Linked DNA regions of Homo sapiens. The protein of the gene in region 1 interacts with the protein of each later gene in a biochemical or structural test. Each region holds a gene or a part of one and is shown on either strand. Other genes may lie near its edges. The genes, in order: AKT3, TRPV4 and IWS1.

What was found.
Region 2: the proteins of AKT3 (region 1) and TRPV4 interact in a test that uses a peptide from one of them, tested with the Homo sapiens proteins (one study listed by BioGRID).
Region 3: of the proteins of AKT3 (region 1) and IWS1, one has a biochemical effect on the other in vitro, tested with the Homo sapiens proteins (one study listed by BioGRID).

What each region holds. Positions count from the first base shown.
Region 1 is NC_000001.11:243,499,144-243,504,280, reverse strand, and holds the end of AKT3 (RAC-gamma serine/threonine-protein kinase), read left to right. Parts: 3' UTR 1-4,494; coding exon of another isoform or gene 4,495-4,538; 3' UTR 4,539-4,557; downstream 4,558-5,137. Other genes in the region: SDCCAG8 (serologically defined colon cancer antigen 8), read right to left, coding at 4,496-4,525. UniProt on the Homo sapiens protein: AKT3 is one of 3 closely related serine/threonine-protein kinases (AKT1, AKT2 and AKT3) called the AKT kinase, and which regulate many processes including metabolism, proliferation, cell survival, growth and angiogenesis.
Region 2 is NC_000012.12:109,830,392-109,837,494, reverse strand, and holds the start of TRPV4 (transient receptor potential cation channel subfamily V member 4), read left to right. Parts: upstream 1-4,096; 5' UTR 4,097-4,145; exon of another isoform or gene 4,146-4,147; intron 4,148-7,103. UniProt on the Homo sapiens protein: Non-selective calcium permeant cation channel involved in osmotic sensitivity and mechanosensitivity. Activation by exposure to hypotonicity within the physiological range exhibits an outward rectification.
Region 3 is NC_000002.12:127,488,389-127,495,505, reverse strand, and holds part of IWS1 (protein IWS1 homolog), read left to right. Parts: intron 1-551; coding exon 552-634; intron 635-2,095; coding exon 2,096-2,225; intron 2,226-3,417; coding exon 3,418-3,535; intron 3,536-5,562; coding exon 5,563-5,674; coding exon of another isoform or gene 5,675-5,688; intron 5,689-6,270; coding exon 6,271-6,327; exon of another isoform or gene 6,328-6,548; intron 6,549-7,117.

The DNA.
Region 1 (5,137 bases):
GTTGAAACTTTGAATGTCCTTTTATGATTTTGTTTATATTGCAGTAGTATTTATTTTTTAGTGATGAGAATTGTATGTCATGTTAGCAAACGCAGCTCCAACTTATATAAAATAGACTTACTGCAGTTACTTTTGACCCATGTGCAAGGATTGTACACGCTGATGAGAATCATGCACTTTTTCTCCTCTGTTAAAAAAAATGATAAGGCTCTGAAATGGAATATATTGGTTAGAATTTGGCTTTGGGAGAAGAGATGCTGCCATTTAACCCCTTGGTACTGAAAATGAGAAAATCCCCAACTATGCATGCCAAGGGGTTAATGAAACAAATAGCTGTTGACGTTTGCTCATTTAAGAATTTGAAACGTTATGATGACCTGGCAACAAAAAGTAATGAAGAAAATTGAGACCTGAGTGAAGATAAGAAATGATCTTTACGTGGCAAAATGAACACATCTTGAGTATTTAGGAAATGGGCAGTGAAGGCTAAGAACCTGGTGTGTTTCTTGGGATCATGGTACATTTATCACTGAATTAAGCCATCAGGGAAAAAACAACAAAAAAAGAGAACACCTCCAGCTTTTCTTTTTCTGTATATACTCATGTCCCCCAGATTCCAACATTTCTCACTGAAAGGGGGCATGTATGCAAACCTCATCTTTCTCCTTCATTAATGATGATCTTCAGATTAAACCCTTTGGTGCTAGGAGCTGACAATTTCCAAAGCAGCCTGTGAAGTCCTAGGGGCTGGGGGCCACTCTTGCGGCAAGCAGAAGGCCATCCTACTCCGCGGAGTGATCATGGAAATGTATTTTAGTTAAACTCTGACAGCTCCCAAACGGAAGACTACAGCATGACGTAGTATTATGATTGCATTGTATGAAAGAGCAAGTGACTTTCTAAGTAGGATGAATCATATTCATATGCAGATGTCTTAGCCTCTTGACGCTGGAAGTGTGGATTTATAGCTATGAAACCACTGCTGGCAGTGGGTGGGCCACTGGGACTGACGGGGGTTAAAGGGCATTTTACTAAGGCAGCTAAGACATATTCAGACATCAACGTTATCCTTCTTTTTCATATTTCTACCTGAGTGAAGTTCATCCTTAGTATTGAGTAGGAAGTTACAGTAAATGGTAGTTCATTCTTACTTACACACATAGCTAATCTTTTTTTTTTCACTTGGAATTATGTTGAATGTTTCATTTTGACAAAAAAGTAGACTAGAAGGTATGTTCTTTAAGTTGTCTTGCATCCATTATATAAGAAAGAAACAGGTGAGAGGAAGAGCAGAAAGCTGAGACTGGCTGATGTTCAGAGCACTTACTCCTCTAGAGGGAAAGCATGACACCGAACACTAAGCACACAGCTTTTTGTTGTTTTGGTTTTTTCTCCCGCAAATCTTAAAGTGATTCCCATGACCTTGGCCAAGGACACTTCTTAAAGATTAATGACTGGCACTGACATTGCCCCAGGCGGGCCACTCCTCACACTGGCTCTCAGTTCCCAGCCATGCCTGGGGCTCAGTCACTTCTATTCCACCCTCTGAGACTCCATTGGTGTCACACAAGGTGTCTTCTTGGCTTTGATTTTGAGAATCCCCTATTTTCACTTCCAGATCTGTCAGCTGCCATGGAGGAATAATAGAAAACCAGAAATGCGTGTAGAGGGAGATTTCTAAAACTTCCCTTGTGTCGCCCATAGTTGTAGTTTTGGGTTCTGGCAGGTGGAACACCCTGAAACCTGGAATCATTCTATGAGAATACAGTTCAGACTTTGCAGACTCCAGCCCATACTAACTGTCATGAAGCTTGACTTCTTGTCATAATGCAGCCATCTTGGAGGAAATTGGCCATTTCTGCTTAGATGGTTGGCAGGGTCGCGCTCAGCTTTGCTTTCTACACTAATTACATAGCATTATTCAAGTATTGTTTTCCATTTCCCATCCCTGATTTCCAGCTTCTTAAAGCTGACTGTTCTTGCAGGGGCCACTTGCTTCTCCTAGAGTACAAAAGTAAGGGCCTTCCTTACTAACTGCAGGGTCTCTCTATTACACCTCAACATACACACTTTGCTGCTACTGTTTGTACTGTCTACAGTAGAATTTCCTTATCTTGCTCCTGGTAGTGCATTACAGGCAAGCATGAAATGTAAAGTATTTATTTAAATAAAAAGAAAACCTCTAAATTGGTAATTGAATTACCTCCCTGTAGCTTTATAGTTTGTGACATTTCTTGACCTTGCTAGTTCTTTCATTAGATCTGCGCAAGATCTAGTCATCTGGTTAAGGATTTTAAGCAGATGCAACTATAAACCCAAGAAACTGTATTACTATTACTGTTGGTCATACTAAACCTGTCTATTTCCTGAAGTATATGACCCACAAGGATGTGGAATAACTAGGAGAAACTGTTTTTGTACACTGTACATCCTTAGTATTTTTACACGTATATGATAGGGATGAACATGATTTTCCTTCGTACAGACAGCTTAAATAAAGCACTATGTCAATCTGCTACTTCTCTGTTTATTGTTGTTGGATGTGGTTCTATAATCCCCCCAAATTAAATCTTCTTTAATGAAAACATGATTTTTAATAGCCCCAGCTGGTATTAACCTACCTTGTATAAAATGTGACAGGAAAATATAGAAATAATTCCTTGTAGCTCACACACACACACATAGGGGATCATTTTTACTTCAGTGAAATGGCAGTAGTGCGGTTGTGCAAACTTTGATGAACGGCTGCTTCTGAGGGGAAACGCTGACCTCTCAGCACTGGATTTAGGATGGATGTACTGTGAAGCCAGGGATGAAGGAGGTCTCAGACCCTGGGGACATTCAGACCCGAATCATCTATACAACACACGGTTTGGACCCAGAATCTGAAGGAATGTAGCTTTTCATTAACGTCTTCCTGATAATGTACTGCTCTGCATATTTCCTTTCTTAGAGTGTATTTCTAACAACATGTCATGGCAAATTAACAAACTTAGACGTGGGTGATGTAGATGGGTAGGATGGCTGGACTGCAGTCTGACTTCACGTTGAATCATTCTGGATGGGGCCTTTTTCTGATTTTACCTCATAAAGCTACTATTGTAGAAACTTGGCTTTGCTCCTGTGACGAAGCCAGACAGAGGAATGGCTTTTGGGACCAGAGTGAGTCAAGCATGTATGTGTATGTCACACGGCCAAATTTGAGGGCATTCTCACATGTGCTCTTCTCTCAAAACCACTGGGGTTGACAGATCCAGGAGGCTAAAAAAAAGTGACCTCTATAATTCTTTAAAGGTGCTATTTTTAGAATATTGTATAATTTATTCACAGTATATCTAAAACAGAATTAAGGACAATTAAAATATCTTATGTGACAGCCTTTATGTCTAGCACATTTGATGAAATAAAAAACTTCTGAATCTGAATAGAAGTTCTACTGTTTCAGGCTTGAACCTTTTACATGCTCAAGAGATTCAAATGGTCTCTGTGTGTAGATCATGCCACCGCCTCCAAAGCCTAATCCACATCACTTCTGAGAGGCAAGGCTGAGCATATGGTGACATCAGCTCTGTGTTGAGATGGTGATGAGGATGATGGCTCGCTGGCCAGGCAGGGCAGCCGAAGGTCAGGGACCTGTCCTAACTAACTGCAGCCTTGCCTTTAGTGTTTGTCATTCTCAGATACAACACGGTATGTCCAGTGTCCGTTTTTATTACTTTAAAGCATTTGAGGGCTTAATTGTGTATAGTAGAAATACTATTTTAGACAAATAATTATCTGTGTACAGATATTTGATATACTCTAAGTAAATTTTCTAATTTCACTAAGTACGTTTTTAGGCTCCTCTCAAATACTGCGTATTGAAGAAAAAAATCTGACACCACCGAGCCAAAGATGCTTTTTTGTCTGTTTTCGTTGTTTAACAGAATGGAAAGAGTAATGCATAGTGCTTCCTGGTGTCTCCTGATTGATTGATTGTGCACAAAGTAGGACGATAAATAAATAAAATGGAGTCTGATGGGACATTGATTAAAGGTGAAGGATGATTGATATATAGATCATGAAAAGAAAAATGAATGGCAGGAAAAAAAGTTTGGTCCTTAATATACTTTGGCCTAGTTAAAATATGTGCCTTTTTGGTGTGTTTTGTTCATCACTACAAGATAAAAAGGAAACATTACAACTCAAGTCTTTAAAAAGTTCATTTATTGAAAATCATATGTATAACCTAGCATACGAATGAGCAGATTTAAACACATAACTTCAAGCCATTTCTGAAAACATACACCAGGAGCTCTGCTCAGCTAGAGTCAGACTCCAGCTCCAGCCCGACTGCGTGCGGGGACAGCGCCCGCGTTGATGAGGACCAGCCCCACTGCAGGCTGAGGCGGTGTCACCCTGGGAAGGTCGTGGTGCGTTGTGGCATATTAAGTCTAAACCAGATGAATGTAAATATCTCTTTGTAAATCATTTATTTCACTCTGTTCCATCCAGGTCAGCAATCAGATTGTGGCATGCTGGGTAACTGGAAAAAATAATAAAAAGTAAGTTTCAATAGCTCATGTTCTTCAATGTTATTTGTCTTCTCATTTGCTGGTTTAGTCACCTTTTATGATGAAAACTGTTGTTGGAGAAAAAAACCTGTTGCTAAAAATGTGGAAATTATATGAAAAGTTTGTGCCTCATCTTGTCCACATCAAAGCCCTTCACATATGAAATAAGGTTAACTGGTTTAATGGGTTAAATTTGAAGACAACCTAGACAAAAGACACGCCTGCCTCTTAAATAAGGACAGTCTGGTGTTAGGACATGGCCAGAGAGCCATCTCTTCTGTCCGGGAAAGGACACATTGATTTGTGCCATAATCTGTTTACTGAAAATTTATCTGACCTTAACGGCAGGTAATTCTAGAACAAAAACAGGGTGTAGGCCAAGTGCCCCTAAGAAATTCCTCGTGAAACAATACAAGCTGAAACACCTCCAAATTTGTAACTGCAAGCAATTTATTGTAACCTATGAAAAAGTACTTTCACATGGAAACCTCACATGTGTTGGAAGAGGGGATTGGGTGTACTGAGGTCTCTTAGTTTTACGCAGATACAAATGTTCCAAAGTAGCTTCATGCAGATCAGGTTGG
Region 2 (7,103 bases), on another chromosome or scaffold:
GCACCTGGCCAGGAAAATATTCCTGCTGGTCATGCTACACTGTAGAGTCTGCTGGGCTTGGGTTCAAATCTTACCAGTTGTGGGATGATCTCAGACAAGTGGCCTCTTTGTGTCATTATCTATAAAATGGTGGAAGAATTCCTCCTTTCCAGGCTGTCAAAAGATGAACTGAGTTAGTGGCAGGATCAGGACTGTGCCAACTGTAAAGTGAGGTGCACGTGTCTTGTTTTTATAACTGGGTACCCTGGGTATAAAGTCCCTGAGATCCTGACCTGTCTGGCTCACCAATCTCTCCCCAGCATCTGGCACTGGACCTGGCATACAGTAAGCACTTGGTAAATGCAGACCCTTGGCTGCTGCCCAGGAACCTTTCTTAGGGGAGGTAGCTGAGTCCACCTGGGGCAGTCCAGGAGCTACGTGGAGAGCAAGGCTGCGCCCCACATGTGGCTGCCACATGACTCACAGCCAATGCTGAGGGCCTTGAAAGTTTTTCCTTCCCTAAGAGGAAACATTATTTCTGGCTAGGCACAGTGGCTCATGCCTGTAATCCCAATGTTTTGAGAGGCCAGGTTATGAGGATCACTTGAGCACGGGAGTTTGAGACCAGCTTGGGCAGCATAGCGAGACCTCACCTGTACAAAAAATAAAATTTAAAAAGCCAGGCTTGGTGACACACACCTATAGTCCCAGCTATTCAGGAGGCTGAGGCAGGAGGATCGCTTGAACCTAGGAATTTGAGGCTGCAGTGAGCTATGAGCAGGCAACTGCACTACAGCCTGGGCTACAGAGCAATACCCTGTCTCTCTCTAAAAATAAAAAAAAAAAGATTAAAAATTAAACTTAAAAAGTATATTCATATTGTTGTGTGACCCTCGTTCATCTCCAGAACTCTTTGCATCTTGCAAAACTGAAACCCTACGCCCAACAAACAGCAACCTCCCATTCTCCTCTCCCCCAGCTCCATCAACCAGGACTTTTTTTTTTTTTGAGATGGAGTCGCTCTCTGTTGCCCAGGCTGGAGTGCAGTGGCACGATCTCTGCTCACTGCAACCTCCCTCTCCCAGGTTCAAGCAATTCTGTCTCAGCCTCCCAGGTAGCTGGGATTACAGGTGCCCACCACCATGCCCAACTAATTTTTGTATTTTTAGTGGAGACGGGGTTTCATCATGTTGGCCAGGCTGGTCTCGAACTCCTGACCTCAGTTGATCTGCCCACTTCAGCCTCCCAAAGTGCTGGGATTACAGGCATGAGCCACTTCGCCTGACCCATCAACCAGTATTTTTAAAGCACCTACTAAGTGCCAGGTGCTAGACCTGTGGTCATGAACACGTTCCCTTGCTTCATGGACACTGGTACCCATTTTTTAGGTGAGGAAACTGAGGCACAGAGAGAGAGGGAGGCTCTTGCCCACAGCTCCCACCACAGCTCCTTCTCCCATCAGCGGCAGGGCAGGATTTGAACCCCAGTGTCTGGTGCAGAGGCCAAGCTCCAGCTGCTTAGCCCAAGATGAGTCACTTCCCTACATGGGGGCCTCAGTTGCCCCATCTGTGAAATGGGGATCAGGAAAGAGCTGGGTTAGTGATGATGATGCTGAGCGCTCAGGCCCCTTCCCTCTGAGCTTAGAGAAGAGGAGGTCGCCATCCCTGGCCCCATCTCCCCCAGTTCCAGTCCCCAACATCAGCTGCCTTATGGCTGGAATCACCCTTGCCATTTTCTTTAAATTGAGACAGGCCTTTCTGCAGAAATGGGTCCCAGACTCACTCCTCCACTCTCAACCTGGCCCAGCCCCAGCCCCAGCCCTGAGGGCCCCCAGCAGATAGCTGTCTGTCAGGGAGGTGTGAGGGGCCCTGTGTTTACCTTCCTCTCCACTGCCAGACATCTGCCTGTTTACTCCGGACCCTCAGAGGGTTCTCTTTCCCACCCCAACCCCCACCATGGAGGGAGCAGCTTTTGGAGAGGCCATACTCCTCTCCAAGCCTCAGTTTCCCACTTGCAAAATGGGTAGAGCAAACCCTACCTCACAGCCTGTTCTCCCTCTCATCCCCTAGGCTTCTGTGCTCAGTGAGTTAATTATTAGGGTTTGTTTCTTTGTAAATGTTTCACGCTGGAGGTGAACACATCACTCCTATTCAGGGGTACACACACACACACACTCTCTCTCTCTCTCTTTCGCCTCCCCACCCAGCAATTCTAAAATTTCACTTTCCAGCTGTTGGACCTCAGGAGAGATGCTGCTATTTTCAAGCTGAGGAGGAAGGAGCTACCCCACAGTCCCTGAGTCAGCTCAATTTAGTGAAAACACTAATGATGAAAATGGCATGGCTCTGGGCCGGGCACGGCGGCTCACACCTGTAATCCCAGCACTTTGGGAGGCCAAAGTGGGTGGATCAACTGAGGTCAGGGGTTCAAGACCAGCCTGGCCAACATGGTGAAACCCTGTCTCTACTAAAAATACAAAAAATTAGCCTGGCGTGGTGGCGCATGCCTGTAATCCCAGCCCCCAGGAGGCTGAGGCAGGAGAATCGCTTGAACTCAGGAGGCAGAGGTTGCAGTGAGCTGAGATCACACCCCTGAACTCCAGCCTGGGCGACAGAGTAAGACTCTGTCTCAAAAAAAAAAAAAAAAGGGCTCTGCACAGCCTGGATGCTCCCAGCATCTTCACTGCGACTGTGAGGTGAGGACTTTTGTATGCCCCACTCTACAGGGGGATGTAGAGGCACTGAGGCACAAAGGTGAAGGGACTTGCATAGGGCTGCTGGGTTAGAGAGTCACAGAGCCAAGCTGTGGGCCTGCTAGGCTTTCCAACCACCCTGGAGGAAGTGAGCTGCCCATCCTGTGGAGGTATTCAAGTGGACTCAGTGCTGGGTAGAGGGTATGGCTATGTGTTGGGGCCCACCTTTGTTATCTGATAAAAGAAAATACATGGGTAGGTGTGGTGGCTCATGCCTATACTCTCAGTGCTTTGGGAGACTGAAGTGGGAGGATCACTTGAGGCCAGGAGTTGTAGACCGGCTGCCCTCCCCCACCCCCCCTTCTACAAAAAAATAAAAATTAGTGGGGTGTGGTGGCGCATGCCTGTACTCCCAGCTGCTCAGGAGGCTGAGGTGGGAGGATCTCTTGAGGCCAGGAGTTTGAGGCTGTAGTGAGCCGTGATCATGCCACTGCACTTCAACCTGGGTGACAAAGGGAGAACATGTATCAAAAATAATAATAATAATAAAAAAAATAAACAAAAACGCATTGAGCCAGGCACGGTGACTCAGACCTCTAATCCCAGCACTTTGGGAGGCCGAGGTGGGTAGATCGCTTGAGCCTGGAGTTTGAGACCAGCCTAGGCAACATAGTGAGACCCTATCTCTGCAAAAAATTTAAATAAAATTAGCCAAGCATGGTGGTAGGCGTCTGTGGTCTCAGTTACTAGGGAGGCTGATACGGGAGGATTGCTTGAACGCTGGTGGTTGAGGCTGCAGTGATTCCTGATCACGCCACCGCACTCCAGCCTGGGCAACAGAGTGAGACCCTGTCTCAAAAACAACAGCAACAAAACATTGATGGCCTACTCCGAGGCAGGCTTCGCAGTAAGCACTGGGTGAAGACCAAGGAGAGCAGCTCACATTTATTTACCCCTGAACCATCTCTATGGGCCATACCCGAGGGTAGGGACCTCCTTCAACGCCTCGGAGGAAATTGTCTGCTGAATGAATGAATGAGCAAACACGTGGAGGACTGGGCCGGGACGCCCATTTAGAGACTAGGACACAGTCCCAGGGCGGCCCGAAGTCACGGAGCAAGATCGAATCGGAGCCGATTCCAACTAGAGCCCTCTCCAAAGACCGTCTGCCGCTCTATCCGGGGATCGCGACACCCATTTTCCAGGCGAGGAAACTGAGGCCCTGGCCCTGCACCTCCCCCGCAGGGGAGGCCCTCGCTGGGCGGGCGGGGTGCGAGTAGGGGCCGCCCCTTCTAGGGCCTGCGCTCGGCGGGGTCCGCGAGCCGGCGGGTGGGCGGGGAGCTGGCCGGGGGCGGCGCGCGGCTGGAACCTGAGCCGGCGGAGGAGGGACCCGCGGGCGGACGGGCGCCGGGCGGGCCGGCCGGGATTCAGGAAGCGCGGATCTCCCGGCCGCCGGCGCCCAGCCGTCCCGGAGGTAAGTGGGGCCCGGGCCCGGGAGGGGCGGCTCAGCCGAGGTCCCCTCGCGCCCCTGGGGACATCTCCGTGGCCCGTCCGGCTCCGGGGGGTCCCGAGGCTCCAAAATGCGGGCCAGGGGCGCGGGAGACGGAAGGCACCAGGTTCCGCAGGCGCCAGCCTCTCAGCTAAGTGCCCTTGGGCCGGACACCGGCTCTTTGGGTCTCGGTTTTATCACCTGTGAAATGGGCACCAACGTGGGGCCTGGGGTAGCAGGTCTGGGGGGAGGGCGGTTCGGTTCCCTGAGACCCCAAGCCAGGGAACCAAAGGCCCGGAGCCTTGCAGCCCACCTTAGGAGACTTGGAAGAGGGATTTCGGGGGACCTAAGGTTTGCCCTTGGCCCCTGAGCATGTCGGAGGGAATTTGGAGTCTGGAGCTTCCAAAGGCTTCTTCTTGGTTACTGAGTCCCGGAGAGACGGCTGTTTCCTCCAAGAGGCATGAAAATCTTTAACCTCTAGTTCTGCCCTGGACTCTCAGGACGTCCCGGGGGCGGGTGGCTCCTGGGGGTGGGTAGCGGGGGTGGGGGTGGGGGAGAGAGAGACTCCCACACTCCCCGCTTGCCTGGAAACACCAACCACAGATGCATTCATCGAGCCACCCACTGCTCCAGCCTGCCCCAGCTGTTCCCTCTGTCTGTCCTCTCTGTTTTGCAGATGGGGAAACTGAGGCTTAGGTCGGGGATCTAGACAATTGGGATTTAAACCCAGGGACTATCCAGCCCCAAAGCCCTTCCCACCACACCAGGTGGCCTGTCCTGGGGCCAGCTCTGCACACAGGGCCTGGTGCCCCCGGGGTGCTTGGGAAGTGGCAGGGCAGAGGTGGGCCCTGTGGCTGTTCTGGCTCAGCTTCTAAAACAAGAGCCTCTGCTGGGGGCAGAGGGGCCGTGAACCCCTGAAATGTTAGGCAGATACCCTGTGGGAGCTTTGTTCTGGGATGCTAAGAACCGCTTGAGGATTTAAGCTTTGCCACTTTGGCTCCGGAGCAAGGGCAGAGGGTAAGTCGGGACTCCCCGGGCTCCTGAGGAGGGTGACGAGGTGGGCTTTTGGGGGAACAAGGGTAGAAAGGTCAGGCCTGGGTTATCTGCGGGGCTAAGAGCGGGCCTGTGTGGGGCCCGGGGTGTGCTCTGCAGTCCCCTGCTGTGTGACCTTGGCCTGGTCCCTTAGCTGTCTGAGCCTTTGTGTTCTCTCCTCTGTAATACTGGGGTGCCTGAGGGCAAGCCCCCAGGGCTGTCGTGAGGACCGATGACCTTCCAGGAACCTGGCACAGCCACTGTTGGCTGCCATCAATGTTTAACCAGTTGTCGTTGCCCCAAACATTTTCTTAACAAAGAGGGTGAAAAAAGTCAATTGGCCATTTCCACATTTCTCTAGTTCATTCTGTTTGAAGAATGATGGGAACCAGAAAGCCTGGACACCCACCTTGATTGGTGAATTGCACGCGGAAGGGGTCCCAGACACAAATGGCAAATGGCAGTCATAGTTCAGGGCGGTTCACTTTGTAAGATCAAGGTGGGGCTGTTTTGAAATGGAGGTAACCAGGGAATGGTTGCCTGAACAAAAAGGGTGTGATGCCCCCAGGAGGGATGTTTCACATGAGCTCCGGTGAGGATGGCTGGGATTCCCCAGGTGAAACCCAGATACCTTATATCTGGGGAAGGGGCTGTGGAGGTTCCTCCTGCCTTATCTGGTGCCAACTGGGCCTCTGCCACTTACTCCCTCCTCCAGCAAATGCTCTCTGCAAGCTCACCTGTGCCAGCTCTGGGCTGGGCACTGGAGCAGTGAGATGCTTCCAATCCCAGCTTCGCTGTAGCCTGAGGCGTGTGAAGGCAAGAAGGATTTTCCCTTGTGGCCCCCCGGGGAGGAGCTCCCACACCTGACTTGTGAGCATCTAGCAAGGTGTGCATGGATGGCCGACGCTTAGTAAATGTATGCTGTGGAATGGATGGGGTCAGGGGAGAATGCCGTAGGGTAGGAGGACTGGCCCAGGAAGGACCCACGAGGGCTTGGTCAAGGTAGTGTTTAAGCCGCACCTTAAAGAATAAATGCAGAAGTAGAGGAAAGAGTATTCAGGCAAAGAGAATGGCACTAGCAGAGATATGACTTTTACCTGTTACCAGGTGGCTACACCTGGGGTTTATAGAGCAGAGAAATAGTTCTGTTTGTCTGGAGTTTGTGACGTGACTGGAAAGGGTGAGGGATCAGACAGGCAGGAGCTAAATCAGACCCAGAGGCCCAGAAGTCCTGCCTGGGAGTGACACGGTTGTTTGTCTGTTCTAGAAAGGTCCCTGTGGCTGCAGAGTGGGAAAGATTGGAGGAGCTCAGACAGAGAGGCTGGCCCCAAGGCTGGGGAAGTCATCCAAGCTCTGAGTGGAGAGCGGCAGCTGGAAGGAGATGTAGGAGGGAAGGAAACACACAAGACTGAGCCTCATGTGCCTGGCACATAGTAGGTGCTCAGTCAGTATCTATGGCATGGTTGTCTGAACAAATACTTTTGAGATGGTCAAAGTCCTTTGAGTTCCTTCCTCTGTTCCTAGGGGGATGGGGTCTACATGAAGTGGGTGTCTCTACTCCATGCAGGCCCTTGACCCTGCTGTCTGCCTCAGTTTCCCCCATTTGACTTTGGGAAAGACACTCCAGTCCGTTCTCCAAATTATAGGGACCCAGGTAACAGCTCCTCTTGTTGTCACAGATAGGGTCTGGGGAGCCAAGATAACATTTATTTCATGCCAGTGGGCCCTCTGGAATGCTCCACATCGCCCATTTGGAGCAGAATTCACCTGTTAAAGATTAATTCCGATCTCTTGAGATAAGTGGCTGCTGTTATGAACTCTGGGTACAAGGTTCTGTCTGGCTTTAGCCAACCCTGGGTTGCATTAACAACTATTATGATGGTGGCAAGCCTTTATTGAGCACTTACTGTG
Region 3 (7,117 bases), on another chromosome or scaffold:
TCTTTCAAAACAATTCAAGAATGGAGGGAAAGTAGCTAAAAGAAGACTAGCTATGTGTATTCAGTTGTTGAAATATATGCAACAGGTATATTATTCTATATTTGTAGAATTTGAAATTTTTCATAATTTAAAAAAATAGAAAAAACTGCCCAAGTAATACTGAAACTCTTCTTTGATATAGTATATTCCAATATCATATAACCTCACACCTGGAAAATTGTTCCTAATATAATAAACCAGAATTTCCCAGTTTTAATTTGTACCTTTAATGAACTCTGAAAATTTGACAGTTATGCTAATGTTCTACATTAAAATTGTTTCTCTCAATTTGTAGTTGTTAAAGGCAATTATTCTAATAGTTTTTTGGGTTTGACTGACATAGACAGATACAGAGCTTGGTGCTCTGCAGAAGATCCATCTTAAATTATTCTTTCTTGTAGGAAAAATTGTTTCTTTGAAAAACTGTTATTTTAAGGTTCAGAATTACAGTGAATTCAATATTAATAAAAAGTACTGTTTTAAAAAAAAATCTTTATTTTTTTTCTGAATAGGAAGACAGACAGTTGAACAATCAAAAAAAGCCAGCACTGAAAAAATTAACTTTACTGCCTGCTGTAGTTATGCACCTTAAGAAGTAAGTATTTTGTTTTCTTTAAAATGTCTTTTTCCTTTTCATGGAATGATAATTCAAATGATGTACTGGTGTTCTAGGAATATTAAATAATGATAGACTTCTATCGGTTCACAGAAAGATAATGAATAAAATTTCCTAAATTATATTTCTTCATAAATTTTTATTAAGCCTTGATGCCTGGTGCAAACAGAACAAATAAAAAATTGATACTAACGAAAGAAAAACTTGGAAACTACTAATTTTGTGTTTTTTTGTTTTGTTTTTGTTTTTTTGGTAAAGACAGGATCTTGCTATGTTGCCCAGGCTTGTCTTGAACTCCTGGGCTTAAGTAATCCTCCCACCTCATCCTCTCAAAGTGCTGGAATTACAGACATGAGCCACTGCACCTGGCCACTAATTTTGTTCTTTATAGACAGTTTTTGGTCTGGTAAAATTGCATCTGTTTTCTCCGTGTGATGGAAAATAGTAAATCTTGGAAGATCCTACCTGAAGGCTGCATTGTACAAGGCTTATATGACTCTAATGTGTCACAATTATTGATCCTTCTGAAGTAATGATGCCCTTTTTGAGTAGATCCTTGTTTCTAACTTTTTTCATTGATTTGCTTTTTTTTTTTTTTTTTTTTTAATTAGAGACAGGATCTCGCTGTGTTGCCCAGGCTGGTCTCGAACTCCTGGGCTCAGCCGATCTTCCCGTCTCAACACCCCAAAGGCAAAGTACTGGAATGGGATTACAGGTGTGAGCCACCACACCGGGCCCTGATTTGCTTATATTTCTGAGCAACCTTGCTTTCTCTTTGAACTAAGCCACAGCCTACTTTTGATGACTGAGGAAATGTATTGGTGCATCAGTGAGCTGCCACCAGCATGGCCTAGAGCATCTGTAACTAGAAAATTTCTCCCTCTATTCTAACAGGGGAAACTATCTGTGGCAGGTTTTATGTATATAATGTTATCTTTTCTATTAACATAACTGATTCCAGTACATAAAATGGAATTTAAGTATTATTTTATTGAGTTTTTTTTTTTTTTTTTTGTCCTGCCAGTGGAGTGCTAGTCTCATTGGTGTCCTGCAGAGAAGAGCAAATCTGGGTTCACCACCATGTAAAACTGTTCAAGAATCACTATTTTGATAGATTGAACGTTTTTTTTTTTTAGTTGAAAAGATTGGAGTTAATTGTTCTTACTGTCTGTACCATTCATATCAGCATTAATTTATCTTGTGTAACTTGAGTTTGTTTTGTTTTCAGCAAATCATCTTTGTCAAGTATATGCATTTCTGGAAAATAAGAACTAAATGTCATACTGCTTTCGAAACCAGAATGGTGTTCAGTAAATGTCAAATTTATATGAGTAACGCTTTAAAAGCAGTTTTTAGAAACATCACTAAATATGTAAGAAAAGTCGGAAGATACAGTAGAACCAAGGTTCACAGAATTTTTAAAAATTATTGTTACTGCAGGCAGGACCTTAAAGAAACATTCATTGACAGTGGTGTGATGTCTGCCATCAAAGAATGGCTCTCACCTCTACCAGATAGGAGTTTGCCTGCACTCAAGATCCGGGAGGAGCTGCTGAAGATCCTGCAAGAGGTTAGAGGCAGATAATCTGACTGTTCTTTATTAATTATCTAATGTGGTCTGTATGGTCATAACCTGTGTAGTTTACAGTGTTTTTATATGTTATCTCTGCTACAGCCTGCCAGAAGAGGGGTTGGAAAAAAGGAACATATCTAATAAAATGAGCGTGAAAGGGAAGACCTTATAAAACTTCATGTAACTATCGCATTGAAGGGAAAAAATCTTAGAGTAGCTGTAATGTGTCTGAGAAGAGTAGTACAGTAGTGGGCAAGTTCCAGGGAGAAATGTGACGCAGAATGAACACCAAATTCAGAATCATATGAACTTGCATTTGAATCTTGAGCTGGGCCACCTTACGTAGTTGTGACACCTTGGGTAAGCTATTTAACTTCTGAAGGAATTCCCAAGGAAACCTCCTATGCCACGCACTGTGCCAGGTGCTTTATATATGTATTGATTCGTTTTTTCCTCACAGTAAACTGAGAAGGTAGGTGTATTATTTCCATTTTACAGATGAGGGAATTAAGATGCAGAGAAGTTAAACGACTCGTCAAGGTCACATAGCTAGAAGGTGGCTGTGCTTGGGTTCAGTCTTAGGTCTATTGGATTCTGAGGCCTGTGCTGGCTCCTGTATTAAACTGCTAACCTCTGAGTACGCTTGGTTCATACTTTCTCACATTGTTAGGTTTTACTTCAACTCAGCTGTAATACTGAGCTCTCAACCTCTTTTTGTTTTTTTTTTTTTTGAGACGGAGTTTTGCTTCTGGTGCCCAGGCTGGAGTGCAGTGGCACCACCTCGGCTCACTTCAACCTCCGCTTCCTAGGTTCAAGCGATTCTCCTGCCTCAGCCTCCCGAGTAGCTGGGATTACAGGCGCCTGCCTCCACACCTGGCTAATTTTTGTATTTTTAGTAGAGATGGGTTTCACCACATGTTGGCCAGGCTGGTCTTGAACTCTTGACCTCAGGTGATCCACCCGCCTCAGCCTCCCAAAGTGCTGGGATTACAGGCGTGAGCCACCATGCCTGGCCTGAACTCTGAACTTTTGATGTGGACACAAAGTATCTTTGTGTTCTATGTCTGTAGATCCTGAAAATGGAATTTTTTATTTGTTCTGTTGTGAATGTGCCAGGTCTCTAGAATAGACTAGCAAGACCCCCAGCTTCCGAGTGATTAATATGTGTGTATGTGTTTATGTTCCCCAGCTGCCTAGTGTGAGCCAGGAGACCCTGAAGCATAGTGGGATTGGACGAGCAGTGATGTATCTCTATAAACACCCCAAGGAGTCAAGGTCTAACAAGGACATGGCAGGGAAATTAATCAGTATGTAAATTTTCCTTTTTGTTTGTTGTGTTTATGTGTATAGATAAGAGAGAGATGCGTATATATAAAAGCTGTATTTTTACCAGTATTTGTTTTAAACGAGTCGGTAAAGTGGAATAGAAATTTTTGAATAACTTCTTACAGGTACTAGCATTTTCTCTTAGACTTTAAAAAAAAACCTCAATATAATTAAGTATGCTATTCAGTATTAAAAATAGCAAGTAAGAGGCTGGGTGTGGTGGCTTAACGCCTGTAATCCCAGCACTTTGGGAGGCTTAGGTGGGCGGATCACAAGGTCAGGAGATCGAGACCATCCTAGCTAACACGATGAAACCCCATCTCTACTAAAAATACAAAAAATTAGCCGGGCATGGTGGTATACACGAGTAGTCCCAGCTACTCGGGAGGCTGAGGCAGGAGAATCACTTGAACCCGGGAGGCGGAGGTTGCAGTGAGCCGAGATCGCGCCACTGCACTCCAGCCTGGGCAACAAGAGCGAGACTCCGTCTCAAAAAAAAAAAAATTGCAAGTAAAAAGTATGCATTTTCTAGTCATGGGTCGAGAGCATGGAGAAAGAGAGGGGTTAGATTGCAGGCCATGGAGTTGATATTACCTGGGTTCAGATCATGAATCCACCACCTACCTTACTGCATTTCCTTAGCTAGTGATTTGTGCTCTGTAAAGTTGAGATAATTATGTGTTTTCTTTTGGGTGACTTTAAAGATTAAATGAGAGGTTGTGTCTAAAGCACGGTGCTTAGCACATAGTAAGTACTCAAGAAACAGCCATTGTTGTTGTTACTTGCACAATGGTCTTCAAAACCTTTTTGCATGTTCTTATTTAATGATGCCAGAGAAATCCAGAGAAGTCTAAACCAAAATTTATGTAATCAAGCGCCATGTTTGTGAAATTCTTCAGTTTTACGAATGAAACCCGTGTTTGTTTTTGTTGTCCTCCTTAACTCTTCCTGTCCTCCATGTTGAAAAGGAATTTTTAGAACTTCAAGGCTAGATTGAAAAAGTAACTACTACGTTCGAATAGAATAATTATTTTTCTTTTGAATTGTTAAGTTTATCAAAAGCTTTTAGAGAAATGTAAATTTCTTCTATAAACCAGAGATATACTACCATCTTTGATCTTGTCAGTAAACTGCAGCTTACTGCCTGTTAAGTAATAAACTTTTGGTGCTTTTATGCAGTAGTTTGCAACTTTATTTTTTTGCCCTAGACTGAGAAAAGCAGAATATCCCCACTGGTTTCCATGACTTACTACAGCAGTGATTCTGAATCCAGAAGTGGGGTCAATGGGGTGGTTTTAAAAGATACGTGGACCCCCTGAGAATCCCTGCTTCCTTCTTTGTGTGACAGCACCCATGTTCGGTCTATAAAGGTCCTTTCTTGTTTTTATAGTGTATTAAATGTAGCAGTAAGCTACATTATGTCTTAGAACAAAGACATCAGTTGGCTCCTGGACTTTGACTGACTGAACAGTGGCATATACTTTCTTTCATGGTCATTGTAGCAGCTATGTTAGACTTAATGAAGTACAAAGTCTCCACCCGCACTATTAAACTGTAATTTTTAAAGGTACAGACCATTTTGTAAGGTAGTTGTAAAGGAGTTTGTTCTGGGTTAGGATAAGAAAGCAGAATTTCAAGACTTTTTTATTTCCAGTAGCGTAAACTTAGAAATTAGTCTGCCTTTTAAAATAAATAAATAAAAATTTTAAATAAATGTCTTTTATGAAATGTCAATCCAGCTAATTGTTGACTATTAAAGTGTATCACATGTTACTTTCTTTAAATCTCTGTGGTGATCTTTTACATTAAATTTTCTGAATCAGCCAGAGTCAGTCAGTACACTGGCATTATGCTTTGTTTATCCTATAAATTACTCTGAAATAATGGACTCTTCAAGGAAAGAATATTCTAAATGTCTAGAATATCCCCTCACACTGGGGTGCAATTATTTGAAAAAAATGGAAATGCAATTTTATGGACAAAATAATTGATTTTTTTCTTACTACAGATGAGTGGTCTAGGCCTATATTTGGTCTTACCTCAAACTACAAAGGAATGACAAGAGAAGAAAGGGAGCAGAGAGATCTAGAACAGATGCCTCAACGACGAAGAATGAACAGGTATGAGGGAACAGGTATGAGTAAGTGGAATACACGTTATTGTTGCAGTAACTCAGTTTTAAGTAAGATCATTAGGAAGCCTGCAAGATGATAGGATTTCCTTTCCTCTCAGCTTGATATGTGTACATAATTCATAATATCCTTTTAGTTTAAATGTGATAGTGTATAGTGAGGGTCCTGTCCTCCTAACCAGACCTTTCTGGGTCAGTTTGTTGGAACAGGGCCTGTTTCAGGATACTGATTGCTTGTGTTGTTCCATCCACTTGAGAAAACAACTTTCTGGGTCCCGTTTCCGAGTTCCTAGAAGAAAAAATGTTATAGTTTTAGTTTGTATTGATAATAGTGGATACAGTTGCATCCAGGAGGACAGGGTCATTAGTTACAAATGTGGCAATTACGGCTCATCCACAAGGAAACCTGTTATGCAAATGAATACTAAAATGAGTAGTACTTTTTAAAGATTAGGAATTATTTTCCCTGATCCATCGTAAAAGAGCTATTAATAGTTATGGTCTAAGTTTGATTTTTAGTTTGCTCTTTTTCTGAGTTATTAGGTTCTAATATTCCTGGTATCTCCTTGTTTACTTTTTTTTCAGCACTGGTGGTCAGACACCCAGAAGAGACCTGGAAAAGGTGCTGACAGGAGAGGAGAAGTAAGGTTTTAATGTTAATTTTTCTTCCTAGACTATATAGAGAATTTCCGTTTGCTGCTTTAAGAAAAGTAGTAAATGAAATGATGTTATGCTCTCATTTGTGGGAGGTGACTTTCATTTTAACGTTTAGTATCTACAAAGCATTGTATTGGGTACTCTGGGGATGTAAGGAAAATTGAGAAAATAATTCATTCAATAAAGATTTTATTGCTGTTTGCTAAGTGCTAGACTCCTTGTTGTGCTCTGAGAATATAAAAACAAATTAAAAATAGTCTATGCTCTCAAAAGTGTAAGTCTTTACAAGGATGATAGGCAAAGGGAGGTCTTTGGTAAAGCCATGGGCTAAGTGTGCCAGGTCTGTGTTTGGAATGGCAAGTAGACTGAAGGGGTTGGACAGTAGTATGGGGCCTGAGGTGGTAGAAGATAAGGTTGGAAATAATAGACCGGTGAAGGGCTTTGAATCAAGATGAGGAATTTTCACGTCTTGTGATTCCACAGGAAGTTTTTGAGGCTGGATGTGAAGCCATCTGGTTTGATTTGATTTAGGGTGCTGATGCCAATGGCATCATGTAGGATGGATTGGAGGGCAGTGGGACTGAGGCAGTGATACAGCTAAACAGAGGTGGTAGTTGGGAAACAGAGGGGTGAGAAGACATTGCAGAGGCAAAGCTGTCATATGTTGGTGACTTAGTGGGAGAGAAGATGGCTAGAGTTGAAGACCTCAGCCAAAATTTTAACCTGAGTGCTGAGACAGTGTTTATTACCTTTCACCAAAATGGAGGGAGAAGTA